2 linked regions of the Homo sapiens genome follow. The protein of the gene in region 1 purifies or fractionates together with the protein of each later gene. This does not show direct contact. Each region holds a gene or a part of one and is shown in the gene's direction. Other genes may lie near its edges.

Region 1 (3,500 bases):
CAGGGCTTAGGGAAAAAGACTATGACTTCCCCCCTCCCATGAGACAAGCTGGAAGGCCGGACCTCAGACCGGAGGGGGTTTATGACATTCCTCCAACCTGCACCAAGCCAGCAGGGAAGGACCTTCATGTAAAATACAACTGTGACATTCCAGGAGCTGCAGAACCGGTGGCTCGAAGGCACCAGAGCCTGTCCCCGAATCACCCACCCCCGCAACTCGGACAGTCAGTGGGCTCTCAGAACGACGCATATGATGTCCCCCGAGGCGTTCAGTTTCTTGAGCCACCAGCAGAAACCAGTGAGAAAGCAAACCCCCAGGAAAGGGATGGTGTTTATGATGTCCCTCTGCATAACCCGCCAGATGCTAAAGGCTCTCGGGACTTGGTGGATGGGATCAACCGATTGTCTTTCTCCAGTACAGGCAGCACCCGGAGTAACATGTCCACGTCTTCCACCTCCTCCAAGGAGTCCTCACTGTCAGCCTCCCCAGCTCAGGACAAAAGGCTCTTCCTGGATCCAGACACAGCTATTGAGAGACTTCAGCGGCTCCAGCAGGCCCTTGAGATGGGTGTCTCCAGCCTAATGGCACTGGTCACTACCGACTGGCGGTGTTACGGATATATGGAAAGACACATCAATGAAATACGCACAGCAGTGGACAAGGTGGAGCTGTTCCTGAAGGAGTACCTCCACTTTGTCAAGGGAGCTGTTGCAAATGCTGCCTGCCTCCCGGAACTCATCCTCCACAACAAGATGAAGCGGGAGCTGCAACGAGTTGAAGACTCCCACCAGATCCTGAGTCAAACCAGCCATGACTTAAATGAGTGCAGCTGGTCCCTGAATATCTTGGCCATCAACAAGCCCCAGAACAAGTGTGACGATCTGGACCGGTTTGTGATGGTGGCAAAGACGGTGCCCGATGACGCCAAGCAGCTCACCACAACCATCAACACCAACGCAGAGGCCCTCTTCAGACCCGGCCCTGGCAGCTTGCATCTGAAGAATGGGCCGGAGAGCATCATGAACTCAACGGAGTACCCACACGGTGGCTCCCAGGGACAGCTGCTGCATCCTGGTGACCACAAGGCCCAGGCCCACAACAAGGCACTGCCCCCAGGCCTGAGCAAGGAGCAGGCCCCTGACTGTAGCAGCAGTGATGGTTCTGAGAGGAGCTGGATGGATGACTACGATTACGTCCACCTACAGGTAAAACAGCGGAACTCATAAAACACCTACACTCACTCACATGCAGGGAGCCTGAGAAAGATGCCTATAAGGATGTCGGGTTGGACTGCCAAAGGAGAGAACATAATTAATGTTAATCTACATGGTTCACAAATTGGAGGGAGTGTCGTAGAGTAGTAAGAACGCTGGGCTGAGAGTCCTGAGTACTCACTCAGATCTAGCCCTTTCTCTGACGTTTACTGTGTGACCAACTTATTCAACCTCCTTGGGCCTTAATTTCCTCATTTGCAAAATGAATGGGGTAAGGGGTTGGATTAGATCCCGTTGATATACCTCAGGTAAGAGGAGACTCACCAAGTAGGATAATAGGCCCTCTAATAATAATACCAGCTCCACTTCTATTTGTGTTTTATGTATAGTTCCATGCAATATTTTATTTGAAAAAAAAGTTTTCGTCATTAAGAAAAAGAATAGAAGACCTTTGCACCAGAGAATTTCTAAGGCCCCTGCTAGCCCTACTCTGTGTATGTGTGTGTATAATTGCTTTAAAACTTAGCCCCATCTCAGACTTACCTAGAGGACCACTGGGCATTAGCTAGCTGTCCTAGGAGCTTAATCTGTGTATGGGACATTGGATAGTCACAGTTGGCCTCCTACAATTGGGAATTCTACCAAGCTCCAAGTTGACCTGGGATTCCGACAGCTTTCCCTTCCACTTTGAGGGATTAAAACATTCTACTGGCTGGGCGCAGTGGCTCACGCCTGTAATCCCAGCACTTTGGGAGGCTGAAGCAGGTGGATCACAAGGTCAGGAGTTCAAGACCAGCCTGGCCAATATGGTGAAACCCCATCTCTACTAAAAGTACGAAAATTAGCCAGGCATGGTGATGCACGCCTGTAGTCCCAGCTACTTGGGAGGCCGAGGCAGAAGAATCACTTGAACCTGGGAGGCGGAGGTTGCAGTGAGCTAAGATCGTGCCACTGGACTCCAGCCTGGGCGACAGAGCGAGACTCTGTCTCAGAAAAAAAAAAAAAAATCTACCAAGATCCATTGTTTAGGACTAGGCTTACTATCTTATTCTGCCATTCTTTTAATTTGACTGAGAGTCACAGATTATACTGAGAACTACGTAACTATTATGCCAAATTCCCTCAAGCGCAAGAAAGTGTGGCAAGGAGAACTGAGCCCCACCTGATGCTGAGGAAGGAAGTGGAGAGAGAGAGGATGGAGGCATTGAACATTCATCTTACTGGTTGTCTGACCCTGCACAGTGGGAACTACTGCCTTGGAGCAGAAATCTATAGATGATTTGAGGGAACTAGAAGTGAGAGGTGGACCACATTTAGACCTGCATTTGGGGGTTTACAGGTTCACATATAATCTATGAGAAAAGAACCCAGAGACTATAAAAAGAACATTATATATGAGATTTGAAGGGAATCATGAGTAGCTCTCCGAAAATTTTAAGGTGCCCCAGAAAGCTGGCACCCTATATGGCAATGGGCTTTATTTTTCTGCCACCCCTGTCGTCTAGGGTTCACAGTGCCTCACTGGGCATTTGAGATGTTGCCAAGGCAGTGGAAAATAAAGAGTATTTACTCATCCGTCAATGAAATTGTTAGCATAAGTGAATCACAGTGATGACATAATATGTTCTTTATGTTGAAAATTAACAGGGTAAGGAGGAGTTTGAGAGGCAACAGAAAGAGCTATTGGAAAAAGAGAATATCATGAAACAGAACAAGATGCAGCTGGAACATCATCAGGTAAGTTCAATCAGAGCAAAAACTGCTTGGCATTGGAAAGATTTCCCACCTAGCACTAAGGAAAGGTATCACTTCAAGAGATTATGATTTTGATTCTTCCAGCTCACTGGCAGGAATCAGCTCCAAAGCACGGAATGGGGTTTAAAAGCAAAGAGAAGGTTTATGACCTTGTTAGTTCAACTGGGTGTACCTGGGTTCCATCTAAACGGCAATTTTTTTAAAGGCTAAACCTGCATATCTAACATATGAGGACTATTTGGGTTAAGGCATTTGGTCTCAAGAAACAAGACCCATTCAAGCTAGCCTAAGCAAGCAGGTTTATAGTAAAGCCACAGTAGGGGAATTCAGTAACAGAAAGTGAAGATAGAGCCAGGTCTGGGGAGAACTAGAACTGTAAATTATCTCTCCTTCTTGTAGTTCCTTTGCTTCTTTCTATCAGTCTACTTCACTCTCACCTATTTTCTGGTTTTCTCTAATTATCTACTCATTTGGCTCCCCTGTAACTTTGCAGAACCCATAAATGGCCACTCAGAACTTCTATAGATGGCT
Region 2 (3,500 bases), on another chromosome or scaffold:
CTGATCAATACCATCCCTACAGAGAATCAGTCATGGAGCCAAATAAGAATCCCCCAGGGTCTGCTGCTGTCACCAAGATTTTAGAATCGCACTGGGCTCGTTTGGAATTTTCTTAGATGCAACAGTAGTAAGAAAAACAAGCTGGGCACAGTGGCTCATGCCTGTAATCCCAGCACTTTGGGAGGCCAAGGCAGGAGGATTGCTCGAGCCTAGGAGTTTGAGACCAGTCTGGGCAACATAGGGAGATGCTTTCTCTACCAAAAAACACTTTTTTTTTTTTTTTTTAATTAGCTAGGTGTGTGGTTTCAGCTACTTGGCAGGTTGAGGTAGGAGGATCACTTGAGCTCAAGAGGTCAAGGCTATCATGAGCCATAATTGCACCACTACACTACAGCCTAGGTGACAGAATAAGACCTTGTCTCAAAAAACAAAAACAACCATAATAAAAAATTAAGACAGCCATTAACTTCATACCAGGTACCATGTATCATGGCTCAGCCCTAAGAGGTGGGTAGCTGTTGTCATCATCTTCTTTCAGGTGAGCAAATTACTGACACTTGGAAGAACATAACCCACCCAAGTTGCCCCATGAGCATCAGGGCCAGGATTTATCCTGGGTTTCTCTAGCCCTGATGAGTGTAAGTCTGCCAGGCTACCGTGGGAATGTGCACAAGAGTCCTGATTTCAATCTCAGCACCACCACTTGCTTATCTCAAGGGACTGTGAGCACCATTTTTGGTTTCCCTGAGCCTGTTTTCCATCTGTGAGTGCGTTACTACTTTACAGGTTAAGAAGATTCTGGAGAATGTGTATAAAAGGCCTAGCAAAACACTTGACTCACTGATGGTAAATAAATGATAGCTGCTGCTGTTGTTTCTGCTTGTCTGAACAATTAGGCCCGTGGAGTCTCTTTCTATCTAAAACAAGAAAAAATCTCAGCATTTTGGGAGGCCGAGGCAGGTGGGTTGCTGGAGTTCAGGAGTTCAAACCTGCCTGGACAACATGGTGAATCCCTGTCTCTACCACAAAAAGTACAAAAATTAGCCAGGCATGGTGGCACCTGTAGTCCCAGCTACTTGCAGGGCTGAGGCAGGAGGATCGCTTGAGCCCAGGAAGTCAAGGGTGATGTGAGCCGTGTTCACGCTACTGCACTCCAGCCTGGGGGACAAAGTGAGACCCTGTCTCAAAAAAGAAAAAAAAGGAAAAAAAAAGACAAGTATAAGAGTTCCCATACTAAAGAAGCCATCTGTCCGTGTTGTGTTTTTTTTGTTGTTGTTTTGTTTGTTTTTTGTTTTTTGTTTTGAGACGGAGTCTTGCTCTGTCGCCCAGGCTGGAGTGCAGTGGCGCAGTCTCGGCTCACTGCAAGCTCCGCCTCCTGGGTTCACAGCATTCTCCTGCCTCAGCCTCCCAAGTAGCTGGGACTACAGGCGCCCGCCACCACACCCGGCTAATTTTTTGTATTTTTAGTAGAGACGGGGTTTCACCGTGTCAGCCAGGATGGTCTTGATCTCGTGACCTCGTGATCTGCCTGCCTCAGCCTCCCAAAGTGCTGGGATTACAGGCGTGAGCCACCGTGTCCAGCCCTGTCTGTGTTTTTTAAACTCTAATTCTGTGACTTCAGTGCCTTCCTTGTGACCAAAGTTGAGATAATGCCCTGGACACTCAACCAGGAATTTCAGTGGTGGAACGTCTCAAACAGATTTTCAGTGCCTGCACTCCTGTGATGGTTACTTCTCACCTTCTGACAGTTACTTTACAGAACTACCCAGAGAGCTCATTCCACCTGACGCACAGAGCACCAGGCCCAAAAGGCAGGGACCTTTGAGGATAATCTTTCTTCTTAATTTTATACCTTTAGAAGTTGAGTCCCAGAGAAATACAGTTTCCAACAAAGCTGAGGTTAAGAATTTGTTTTCATTCTGTGGCTCTACCCAGAACCAGCCTGAGAATGATCAAAGATAACATCCTTTCTTCCTCTAATTTTTTTTTTCTTTCCTTATGCCAAAGGCTTCACCCAAAAAACTGCCTGGGTGTGCGCCAGTTTGCTGAGACAATGATGTGTGCTGTGCTGTACGACGCTGCCAACAGCTTCATCCACCAGCACTTTGTGGAGGTGTCCATGTCAGAAGAGTTCCTGGCCCTGCCCTTGGAAGACGTGCTTGAGCTGGTGTCTCGGGATGAGCTGAATGTCAAATCTGAGGAGCAGGTATGTGAGCCCAGTAGCAGTCTGTGCAGGTGACATGAGATGCTGCTCTTTATAGTCATTGTTTTGTTTATGTATTTTTTTACAAAGTTAAGATCATGACATGTATGTGGCTGTTGTATATTATTGGGCTTGTTTTACTGTATCATGCATTTTTCATGAAAACTTTCTATGTTTTATTTATTTTTTTGAGATAATATCTTGCTCTGTCACCTAGGCTGGAGTGCAGTAGCAAGATCATAGCTTACTGCAGCCTCATCCTCCCACATCAGCCTCCCGAGTAGCTGGAACTACAGGCACATACCACCACACCCAGCTAGTTTTTGTATTTTTTGTAGAGACCGGGTTTCACCATGTTGCCCAGGCTAGTCTTGAACTACTGTCCTTAAGTGAGTTCAGCCTCCCAAAGTGCTGGGATTATAGGCGTGAGCCACCGCACCTGGCCTCCATACATTTTAGTGTCTAAATAGCATTCTGTTGATTTTTGTCAACCTACTCACCTTATTCTTGCATGTTTGGGTTATTTCCAATATTTACTATTAGAAATAATCCTCCTGTGAACCAGAAACAGCAAGCATAGATAATTTTTTTGTTGTTTTTTTGAGTCAGAGTCTCATTCTGTCACCCAAGCTGGAGTGCAGTGGTGCGATCTTGGCTCACTGCAACCTCCATCTCCCAGGTTCAAGCAATTCTCCCGCATCAACCTCCTTGAGTAGCTGGGATTACAGGCATGCACCACCATGCCAGGCTAATTTTTATACTTTCAGTAGAGACGGGGTTTCACCATGTTGGCGAGGCTGGTCTCGAATTCCTGACCTCAAGTGACCCGCCCATCTTGGCCTCCCAAAGTGCTGGGTTTACAGGCGTGAGCCACTGTGCCCGGCCTAGTATAGATAACTTTTTGAAAGAATCTTGTTCTAAGGAAGAACAGAACATTGGGGCAGCTGTGGGAGGGGTCTGTGAAATCAAGAGGGGTTGTTGTTTGTTTGTTTTTGAGAAAGAATCTTGCTCCAACGCCCAGGCAGGCTGGAGTGCAGTGGCAACAATCTCAGCTCACTGCACCTCTGCCTCCCGGGTTCAAGCAATTCTCCTGCTTCAGCCTCCCAAGTAGCTGGGATTACAGGTGCCCGCTACCATGCCTGGCTAATTTTTATATTTTTAGTAGAGATGGGGTTTCACCACGTTGGCCAGGCTGGTCTTGAACTCTGGCCTCACATGATCCTCTCACCTTGGCCTCCCAAAGTGCTGGGATTATAAGCATGAGCCATCATGCCAGGCCTTTTTTTTTTTTTTTTTT

The links. The genes of interacting proteins can lie anywhere in the genome.
Region 2: the proteins of NEDD9 (region 1) and KLHL18 purify together in Homo sapiens (affinity purification with mass spectrometry; one large-scale study listed by BioGRID and IntAct). This does not show direct contact.

Annotation. Positions count from the first base shown.
Region 1 is NC_000006.12:11,187,669-11,191,168, reverse strand, and holds part of NEDD9 (enhancer of filamentation 1), read left to right. Parts: coding exon 1-1,205; intron 1,206-2,861; coding exon 2,862-2,951; intron 2,952-3,500. UniProt on the Homo sapiens protein: Scaffolding protein which plays a central coordinating role for tyrosine-kinase-based signaling related to cell adhesion. As a focal adhesion protein, plays a role in embryonic fibroblast migration.
Region 2 is NC_000003.12:47,327,944-47,331,443, forward strand, and holds part of KLHL18 (kelch-like protein 18), read left to right. Parts: intron 1-2,007; coding exon 2,008-2,206; intron 2,207-3,500. UniProt on the Homo sapiens protein: Substrate-specific adapter of a BCR (BTB-CUL3-RBX1) E3 ubiquitin-protein ligase complex required for mitotic progression and cytokinesis.